Regions from separate parts of the Homo sapiens genome. Here region 2 is linked to region 1. The links come from fine-mapping of genetic effects on gene expression. A gene starts in region 1. The other region holds a variant in brackets. All regions are shown on one strand. Distances are between the middles of the regions.

Region 1 (5,384 bases):
TAATCAAACTATACTCTCTCTTCTTTGTTTGCATTTGCCTAGTCTTTTTTCCATTCTTTTGCGTTCAACCATTCTACTTATGTTTTAAGTTTATCCTTCAAATCGTGTAAATCTACATTGTAAAAATCCAGTCCAGAAATTATTACCTATTAATTGACATTTATGGGCACTAATGACATATTTGGATTCATTTCTACAATTTTATTACAAGTTATCTACTCTCAGTCCTCATTATTCAGATTCTGTACTTGCCAATTTGCCTACTTGCTGAAATTTATTTATTACCCAAAAATCAATACTCATGATGCTTTTGTGGTCATTCAGGGATATGTGCAGAATGGCAAAAAATTTGAGTCCCCCAACGTACACATTCCCAGCTGAAGTCAAACAAGGCAACGCTCTGCTTGTTTAAGCTCTTCTACTACTATAAACAAGCTTCCTTTTTGCAGTCTACTTAGTGTCACATTTTTCACATTTTTGTGCTTTTTGTTGGTGAGTTTGCTGTTTAAAATGGCTGCCAAGAATTACTAAAGTGCTGTCAAGTGTCCTAAGAGCAAGAGGCCTGCAATGTGCCTTACAAAGAAATTACTTGTGTCAGATAAGCTTGGTTCAGGCATGAGTTACAGGGCTTTCAGCCACAATTCAATGTTAATGAAACAATAATATATATTACATAAGGTGTCTTTTTTTTTTTTTGAGATGGAGTCTCACTCTGTCGCCAGGCTAGAGTACAGTAGTGCGATCTCGGCTCGCTGCAACCTCCGCCTTCTGGGTTCAAGTGATTCTCCTGCCTCAGACTCCCGAGTAGCTGGGATTACAGGCACCCACCACCACGTCCTGCTAATTTTTTGTATTTTTAGTAGAGATGAGGTTTCACTGTGTTGGCCAGGATGGTCTCAATCTCCTGACCTAGTGATCCGCCTGCCTCAGCCTCCCAAAGTGCTGGGATTACAGGCATGAGCCACCGCGCCTGGCCTATATACATGTTTAAAAAATAAAGACAGGGCCAGCACGGTGGCTCATGCCTGTAATCCCAGCACTTTGGGAGGCTGAGGCAGGCAGATCACCTGTGGTCAGGAGTTCAAGACTAGCCTGGCCAACACGGTGAAACCCTGTCTCTACTAAAAATACAAAAATTAGCCTGGAGTGGTGGTGCACACCTGTAGTCCCAGCTACTCAGGAGGCTAAGGCAGGAGGATCCCTTGAACCCAGAAGGTGGAGGTTGCAGAGAGCCGAGATCACACCACTATGCTCCAGCCTGGGGGACAGAGAGAGATTCCCTCTCAAACAAAACAAAAAAAATAAAAATAAAAATAAATAAATAAATAAAGTATGTAGAGTTTTATTTAATAATTAACCACACAGATTAAAAAATAGAAAGTAGCCAGCTTCCCAGAAGTCTTCTGTGTGCACCTTCTAATTACCATCTCTGTCATGTGTCTTCAGACAGAAGCACATATAAAAACAAGGTTATGTATTGATCAAATGATGAAAATGTGTGGTCAGAGGCTTGCATTTTCCCTAGGAGCAATGGCTCAGTATTTGCTAATCCGGTGTTCACAGTGACTTTACAGAACATAACTACCCCCAAGTAATGGGAATCAACTGTATTTTTATTACTTTGGTGTACAAAGAACTTTGAGCTCTCCATGGCTTGCCACAACAAAAGACTTCCTAGGCAAATTGTCTACTGCTTTGTTCCAAGTGGGGGCTCTACTTGAGGCTGTGGGACCAAGACAAAAGAAGCAGCCTCTATGTGGATTAGGCCCCTTCTCCTGGCAGAGAGAAAGCACAAAGGAGCTGGCAGAAACTCACAGTGCAAAACTCACTATGCATATGCTACATCTGCTCATACTCCAATAGGCAAAGCACAGCTGACAGCAAACCCAAAGTCAATGAGACAGAAATGTGTCTTCCTTCCACGGGCCGTTCTAAAATTGCAAGGTAATGGACAGGAGTGTCCTCTTAAAGGAAAGATGGAATGAATAGTTGTGAATAATAATATAACCCATCACTACTACTCCTGTTTTAATTTTTTGAAAATGTTTAGATACATATTATATGCTTGTTTAATTTAAAATATCAAACTTTACCTTGCTCAGGCTCTGCCCCTCCACACTGGGCCACTCAAAGATGCCCAACTTACCCTACTTGGGCTCCAACAGCCATATCAGGTTGCATTCGAGACCAGCCTGGCCAACATGGTGAAACCCCGTCTCTACTAAAAATGCAAAACTTAGCCGAGCGTGGTGGCGCACACCTGTAGTCCCAGCTACTAGGGAGGCTAAGGCAGGAGAATCGCTGGATGCATTGATGCCCTCTTCACCCTGCTTAGGCTCTGATTCCTGACACAAGACAGCTCTGTTCTGTGGAACCCCTCCTCACTATGCTTGGCCCAACTCCCCACAGCCGACCACTCTAACTTCTATGTATCCTCCTCATCTCCTTGGGCTCAGACCCTCCATGTCTGGCTACCCACCCCCATAGACACCCTCCTCACCCTCCTTCAGTTCGGACAGTCCACATCAGGCCTCTTCCCTATGGAGACAGCTTCCTCACTTTGCTCCAGCTCTAAGGCTCCTCCCTCATCTGCTCCCCTGCCTGGACACTCTGCTCACCCCACTCAGGCTCTCATTCTATGCCAGTCTGCCCCTCTAGCCCCAGGGGGATGCCTTTCTCAACATGGGCAGGCTGGTCTCCATGCTATGCTGCTTCTTGCCTCTTCACTGGGCATTCTCATCTACCCCTGGCTCCAGCACACCAGGCCAGCAGCCCTCCTACAGAGACACCCTCCTTGACCTGTTCCAGCTCTGATGCCCACACGGAGCCAGCCGTGGCTCCCTTCCCCTTGGGGCAAACGCCTACCTTGCTAAATGTGCCTATCTAATGGCTTTAGGACTGACTAGTTCAGTTAGTAAAGAAAAGGAGACAAAACAAGGAAGAGCTACTTTTCCTTTTTGTAAAAATATGTATTGTGAAAAACACCACAAAAATAAAAATATGCATGAAACATTAATGTTCAGTCTAACGAACTATTACGAAGTGACCACTCATTAAACTATCACTGAAATCAAGTAAAAAATTTCCAACACTTTCTGCTCCTTTTTCATTCTTTTCCAGTCACAACCCCTTCCTATGCTCTCAAAGGCAGCTAATGGTAGTGACTTTCTTTTTCATATTTTCAAGATCATATGTATTCCCCTAAATATGTTTTTGTTTTTGTCTGCTTCTGTTCTATATCAATGGAGTCACTTGGAATGTATTCTTTTGTGCCTGGCTTTTTGTGTTCAACATTATATTAATGAATTCCATCCACATTGTTTTGTGTAGCTGTATTTTGTCAATTTTCATTGCCATGCCATCTATTGTATGACTACACACATCTCTACTGAGTTGTTTATAGTTTGCAGCTGTTAAGAATAAAGCTGCTGTGTGTATACATAGCATGTATGTAATAACGTTCTGCACGTGTATCCCAGAACTTAAAGTATAATAAAAAACTAGGATTTTCTAAATAAAAATGTTATTTATATCAACATGTAATAAGTTTATTACGTTAAATGAATTAATAAATGTTTTTAAATGTCAAAAAAATTTTAAACAATTTACTCATGTAAAAAAAAGAATAAAGCTGCTATGAACACTCTGTGTGCATTTGCTGGAGCACGTGGGCAGGTGTTCTTGTAGGTTATACATTCAGCATAGGGAATGATGGGTTACAGGGTATGCATATCTTCAGCTTCTCAAGCTGATACCAAATTATTTCCCAAAGAGTTTGTACCAATTCACAGCCTTGCCATTGGTAGTTGAGAGTTCCTATTGTTCCATAACCATGCTGTATGTAGAACTGTCACAATCTTTTCATTTTTACCATCCTGCTACGAGTATGGAAATACATCACTGTGGACTTAATTTAAATTTCTTGACTACTAATGAGGTTGAGCACCTTTTTAGATCTTTATTAACCACTTGGCTATCCTCTCTTTGATTTTCTTTTCAAATGTTTTGCTCATTGTTCTCTGGGGTTTTCTGACTTTTTCTTGCTGATTTCTACTGGAGTCATGTCTTTCCTCAGTTATATGTATTATGAACATCTTCCAGGATCAAGGGTAATCTTCTAAAACCCTTATTGGCTTGTCTTTTACCTTTTGAATGAAAGTTTTTATCACGTGCCCTTCCTACCCCAAAGACAGAATCAGGAATCCTTTTTCTATGTTCCTTTCCTACAATACAATAACTCGCTACAATACAATACAGTAACTCCAATATCTGAAGTCTTTGTGGACCTCTGCTGTTGGTTGTTTTTCTTGATTTTTTTCATCTTGTTTTCTTAAGATCTGTGTGATTTTTTTTATTGTGAGAGTACATATTTAATGGAAGTTTATGTATGTAACAATACTTTGTGGAATTTCTTGGATTCCTGTGTTTAAAGGAGAATTCTTCCGAATCAACTTGTCCTCAATTTTTCCCTAACAACTCATGCAATTTTGAATTAAATTCATAGCTTTAGATTTATCAGACCATGCACATGTGCCAATTTTCCTACTCTGCTCTTATGAAAGGAAACAAGGTTGCAGTTACAAATTCTCAGAATAGTCTTTTTTTTTTTTTTTGAGATGGAGTCTCGCTCTGTTCCCCAGGCTGGAGTGCAGTGGCACTATCTCAACTCACTGCAACCTCCTTCTCCCGGGTTCAAGTGATTCTCCTGCCTCAGCCTCCTGAATAGCTGGGATTACAGACACGCACCACCACGCCTGGCTAATTTTTTTGTATTTTTAGTAGAGATGGGGTTTCACCATGTTGGTCAGGCCGGTCTCGAACTCCTGGCCTCGTGATCCACCCACCTCTGCCTCCCAAAGTGCTGGGATTACAGGCATGACCCACTGCACCCAGCCCAGAGTAGTCTTTTTTCCTGTTTTGTTCAGAGCCAAAGCCAAGACAGGCAAGTTCCTTCACCACAGTTGTGCATGTGTGTGTTTCTGTTTCATCCATTTATTTCTGTTTCATCCATTTATTAAGGTGTCAGCATTTGGTGATCCTTGTGAGTGAGATTTCTGATCTGACTTTTCACATTGCTTAGGGCTTAGCTCTTTTTTCTTGCCCTTGCCAGGGGCCCACTAAAATTCAAACTGCAGATTACCAGGCATTGGCAGATACTCCCAGGGAAGCCTCTAACTAAAGCACTTCCTTATCTCTCTGGAGTCAGACCTTCACATCATTTTTGGCTTTTAAGAATTCCTCTTTCTTGCCAACTGACTCATTGATTTAAAGAGTCATGCATTTTAAGTATTTTAGACAATATTTTGGGGGGGTGATTTACTGGGAATAGTTTCTAAGAGTCCTAGTTATGAATTTTTAATTATAAAATTACACACATCAAATAC
Region 2 (5,384 bases), 25 kb before region 1:
GCAATAAAACTTATGTATTCCAAATTCAACAACAAATATCTTTTTATAGTGCAGGAGCCATTGACTTTAAAATAAGGAACTAGACAAGGATGGATGCCATTGCCTTTATTTTCATTATTATTTTGGAGGTTCTACACAATACAAGAAGACAAGAAAATAAAGTCATGAAGTTGAAAAAAAGCCAAATATATCATCACTTTCAGATGATGGGATTATATATAAAATCAAAGTAACATCATTCAATATTGTGATACTTAAGATAATTTGGCAAGTTGGATACAAGACAAAACTGACAGCTCTTTATCATGCTACTCATAATTAATGATTTTGATGATAATATTTTCTACTTACTATTCAACGTCTGGGGTCCATACATTTCAGTCCACAATGTGAGCAGCACTTTTCCACCAATGGGCACTCCTCATCCTGCAGGCACTTGGGTTTATCAATCTTGGTACATAGCAAGGGCTTGCGTGGGCAGAAACCTTTTTTGACTTTATGGGGTAAAAGAAAACACTTGACCTTGAAATACTTGGTCATAATTTGAGACAAATTTGAGGAATCTTGGGAATCTCAAACAAGGTTTTATTCTGATTAAGCTTCTTACCTTTCCCCCTACAGTAACAATAGACTGGAGGAGGCAGAGTATCAACTTTCTACGACTAATAACTTGAGGAGCATCAAGAAAAGTCTTACCATCTCTGACTTGTACCATCTGATAGGATTCCTGTCTGCTCCTACAGAATTAATGGATCTGGGTTATATAACCCCAGAGTACCACAGGTGGCAGGAGTATTAGCACACAGAACCTTCTTGTTTTACAAATTGTAGGCATTGAGGCGTATTTAGAGGGAAATGAGTTGCCCAATGCCACATAGAAAGCCAGTAGAAAAGTTGAAGTAGGTTGAAAAGCCTTGGACTCCTGCCACCACACTATACTGAACCTTAGAACCTTAAAGCCACACCTGGACAATCCCTGGGACTACATGGGGAAGTAAACACCTGCCTTAGAGGAGGCAGGAAAGTTGGCTTCTATCCAACATCATTTGCTACTAATGTTTTCCCCAGCCCATCTTACAGGATATGAATATGATGTGCATGCTTTGAAGTTCTGTGCAGACATGAGGGCTTATTAGGAATACACCTCATGGTTATGAATTTTTTATGAATCGGTGAATATTGTCACCTTGCAAGTCATTGAGGAATGAGTCTCAGAAAAAATAAGTTTTCTTGGGGAAGAATAGAGAGCAATGCTATGAATTACTGGCTTTGAAGAACAGCACAATAGTCTTCAGAGGTCAAGAGGTCAATATAACTTGTTGGGCATTAAAAGGGGTTCCCAAAGATCCTCAAAGATGAGCCCAAGGAGCATCTGAGGTTCAAGACACCCCCCACTCCATGGAGACAGCATGACATCCTTGGCACATGCCCAATAGATTTGGGAGGTATATCCCCAATCCTTACCTGTCCAGGCCCTGGCACAAACAAAGCCACACCTGGATTCACAACATTTGTCTGTCTGGGGACAATCGATGTCACTGTGACATGAAGGTGGACACTCCTTACGTTCAGTGAAAGGGAAGAGTGGGCATTGTCCATCCTTAACTAAAATAAGAGCAGATGTGAGCTTCTTAAAACCCCACCCCCATCCCACCACCCTTCAAAGAGCCTTTCCTTCTCTTCAAAGCTAGTATCCCTTTCTGCAACTTGGTTCACCCTACCCTATCCATCTCCAGTAGGCTGTGGAAGAATGAAATGTCTCATCATATCATGGGATATGGTAGAGAGCATGCTGGGCTTGGTGCCTTAAGCCCCATGGTAAAGTCCCAGTCCTGCTACTTGGTGAGTTTCCTTCTCTGTAAAATGAGGATAATTATGTGAAATCTACACAAATCAGTGTAAGCCATTTTAGGGTATTTGGTTTTACTTAGAATGAAATGGGGATCCATCACACTGTTCTCAGTAGAGAAGTGATATGGCCTGACTCATGTTTTGAAAGGGTCATTGTGACTATTGTGTTTATAATAGATTGTAAGGAGGATAGAAGCAGGGAGACCTTTTAAGAGGCTGTTGGGGTAATCCAAGTAAGAAGATGGCTCTTCAGATCAGGGTGGCAGCTGCGGAGGTGGTAAGGTTTTACCAGATTTAGGATCTACTTTCAAGGTAGAACTAAAATTATTTCCTAACTAACTTAATGGATGTTAATTGATAAAGAGAGGCATCAACTGTGATTGTGAAGTTTTTCAACCAAGATGAGAAGCATGGATAGAACCGGTTTGCGTTAGGGGAGTGATGGTAAGAGGTACTGGTTTATGTTTATGTTGAGCTTATTTTTCTGTTTTTGAGACAGGGTTTCCCACTGTCACTCAAC[G/A]AAGCCTCAATTTCCCCAGCTCAAGTGATCTTTGAGGAGGTGGGAATACCTCCTCAAGTGATCTTCCCAGCCTCCTGAGTAGCTGGGACCATAGGCACGTGACACCATGCCTGTTTTTTTTGTTGTTGTGTTTTTGTTTTTGTTTTTGGTTTTGTTGTTGTTGTTTGTAGAAATTGGGTCTCACTATGCTGCCTAGGCTGGTCTCAAACTCCTGGGCTCAAGTGATCCTCTTGCCTCAGCCTCCCAAAGCGCTAGGATTATAGGTGTGAGCTACTGTGCCTGGCCCGAGGTTCTGTTTAAGCAAGTTCAACATGAGATGTTTGTGAGGTCCAGGTGGAGATGTAGAGCAGATAGTGGATTTTAGGAGTCAGATTAGGGCTGGAGACACAACTTTGTGGGTCATTAGGACATAGGTGGTATTTAAATCAATTCTTTGGGGTTTTGTATGCTCTTGTACTCATCTGACTGCAAATTCTACAAGGGCTTCCCCAGGTCAGGCTCAGGCTATGATGTGTTGAACTCTCAGAGGTATTATCAGGTTGCCTCTGAGTCTTAACCTAAATTTCCCACAAACCAGCCCAAGCCCATTTCCCTGGCCTCCTCTTCCTTGTCTTCCTGGGAGAGGAGACAAGGCTCTTGTCCACAGCACCATGATTCCTTAGAGCTTCCCATGAAGGGAAGCTTGTGGTCCTAGTTTCAAGTCAGGTCCCAGGGTTGCCTTGGCCGTTCAGGCCCATGGGTCCATGGAATTAAAATTCCACCTCTACTCCTGACCAACTGTGGGTCCTCAGGCAACTAACTTCACCTCTCTGACTGTGTTCTCCCATCTGTAAAGTGGTAGTGATGGTACATTTTTCAGCTTGCCTCACAGAATCTGAGGTCGAAATTGCAACGCTGCCTCATAAATCACACAGTTGTGAAGATCACTGGTCACCATCTCAATTGTTACCGTTTAGTGAGCCCACACCACGGGACCACCACTCTATCAAGTCTTTGTGTTTTAAATCACATATAATCCTGCCAACAACTCAACGAGCTGTTTGCTGTGACTCCAGAATTACAGAAGAGGGAACTGAAATTCAAAGAAATGAAGAAAGCAGCAAGTGGGAAAAGTCAGATTTAAATTCAGGTCATTTGACTCCTAAGTTTGGTAGGACACTGTTTCCCAACATTGCTGGTGATGATCATTATACTAAGGAATGAATCCACAGCCTTCACCTTCACCCCACCCTACTCTCCACCTCCAGTGTGGACACTTACTCCATGGGATTCCAGAGCTGGCCTGTCTACACTTCATTCTTAAGCAAATCCTCAGTATGATGCTCAACAGGTTACTATGATGAGGAAACACCTTCTTCCAAGGGGGCACACCTGGCTTTCGGGTCACATTGGCCAAGATCTATTAACATTTTCTATACACTATCTCATTTTTTGGCAGAGCCACTCCATTAGGTAAATACTATTATTAACCTCATTCTATAGACAAGGAAACTGAAGCTTATAAAGGCAGGCAACTGGCCCAAGACCTCCCAGCCAGTGAATGACAGAGCTAAGTCTTGAACCAAGGAACTTTAACCTCAAATCCTGAGCCTATAACCTCATTGGTATACTATTTCTAGTTAAACTAGACCCTCAGATTTCCAGGATAGAGGTCTCACCAATTAACATGCAGGCCGTTCTGCAGGCATCCTCATTTAAGAAGTTGTTGGCATTCCCTTCGCAGCCCCTGTATTTGAAGGGTGTGCAGCGGTAATTTTTAAAGTCAAAATGCCAGCGCTGTGCCTCATGATTACAGTTTCCATGCCTCACAGGTAGCATGCAGGGTTCTGAGGTCAGGAAGCAAGGAAAGAAGGATATGAAGAGTAGAGATAAAAGAACAGGGTCAGTTCCCTAGCATTTCTCATAACTCCTGGTGTTATCACCCAAGTCATAAAAGGAGCCATGGCAGGGGAAAAAAAAAGGCATAGGTTCTGGTCCCAGTTCTACTACTAATAGTCTATGTTGTATGGCACCTCTGAGCATCACTCCTTCCTTGCAAAGAATATTACAAGGTGCATATAAGAATCTTGTACTTTGGAGCTGATCTTTCTTCTCCACTGTCCTGAGCTTTGGTAGGGCAAGACTTGTTCAGCAACTATTAGGTTGATGCAAAAGTAATTATGGTTTTTGCATTGTTAAAATTTGCCATTTGATATTAGAATACATTCTTAAATAAATGTGGTTATATCATATATCATTTTAATGCACATTTCTTGCTTCCTGTACTTTTGCTAATGACTTATTATTTGCTGTTTAATTTATATTTATTTTAGACTATATAAATTATGTCAGACAAAAAGCAAATTCGAGTGATTTTCTCATTTGAGTTGAAAATGGGTCGTAAAGCAGCAGAGACAACTTGCAACATCAACAACACATTTAGCCCGGGAACTGCTAAGAAATATACAGTGCAGTGGTGGTTCAAGAAGTTTTGCAAAGGAGACGAGGGCTTTGAAGATGAGGAGCATTGTGGCTGGTCATTGGAAGTTGACAATGACCAACTGAGAGCAGTCATCAAAGTTGATCCTCTTATAACTACATAAGAAGTTGCCGAAGAGCTCAACGTCAACCATTCTATGGTCATCCAGCATTTGAAGCAAATTGGAAAGGTGAAAAAGCTCGATAGGTGGGTGCCTCATGAACTGAGCAAAATTAAAAAAATATATATTGTTTTGAAGGGTCATCTCTTATTCTGTGCAACAACAACAAACTATTTCTCAATCATATTGTGACGTGCAATGAAAAGTGGATTTTACACGACAACCAATGATGACCAGCTTAGTGGCTGGACCAAGAAGAAGCTCAAAAACACTTCCCAAAGCCAAACTTGCACCAAAAAAGGTCATGGTCACTGTTTGGTGGTCTGCCGCTGGTCTGATCCACTATAACTTTCTGAATCCTGGCAAAACCATTACATCTGAGAAGTATGCTTAGCAAATCGATGAGATGCACTGAAAACTGCAGTGCCTGCAGC

Which allele goes with the higher level. Positions count from the first base shown, and alleles are read on the strand shown. Sizes are in standard deviations (SD) of each study's normalised expression.
With allele A in place of G in region 2, the expression in thyroid of the gene that starts at base 2,563 in region 1 is lower (moderate effect, 0.49 SD a copy in GTEx).

What was found. PIP is the estimated chance that this variant, and not a neighbour inherited with it, causes the effect.
Region 2: its variant is the best candidate, but not a certain one, in a credible set for the expression of WFDC8 in thyroid (GTEx, PIP 0.53).

The regions. Positions count from the first base shown.
Region 1 is chr20:45,576,722-45,582,105 of GRCh38, forward strand. It overlaps WFDC8 (WAP four-disulfide core domain 8), which reads right to left and starts at 2,563. Exons shown (of 6, transcript NM_130896.3): 1 at 2,501-2,563. The coding sequence starts at 2,526. RefSeq lists an enhancer at 1,378-2,313.
Region 2 is chr20:45,551,672-45,557,055 of GRCh38, forward strand. WFDC8 (WAP four-disulfide core domain 8) reads right to left here. Exons shown (of 6, transcript NM_130896.3): 4 at 4,030-4,197; 5 at 1,465-1,605; 6 at 91-494. The coding sequence ends at 355. Among named protein-coding and RNA genes, the nearest start is that of EPPIN-WFDC6, 7.0 kb to the left of the region's middle. The variant G/A (reference allele first, on the strand shown) is at 2,372.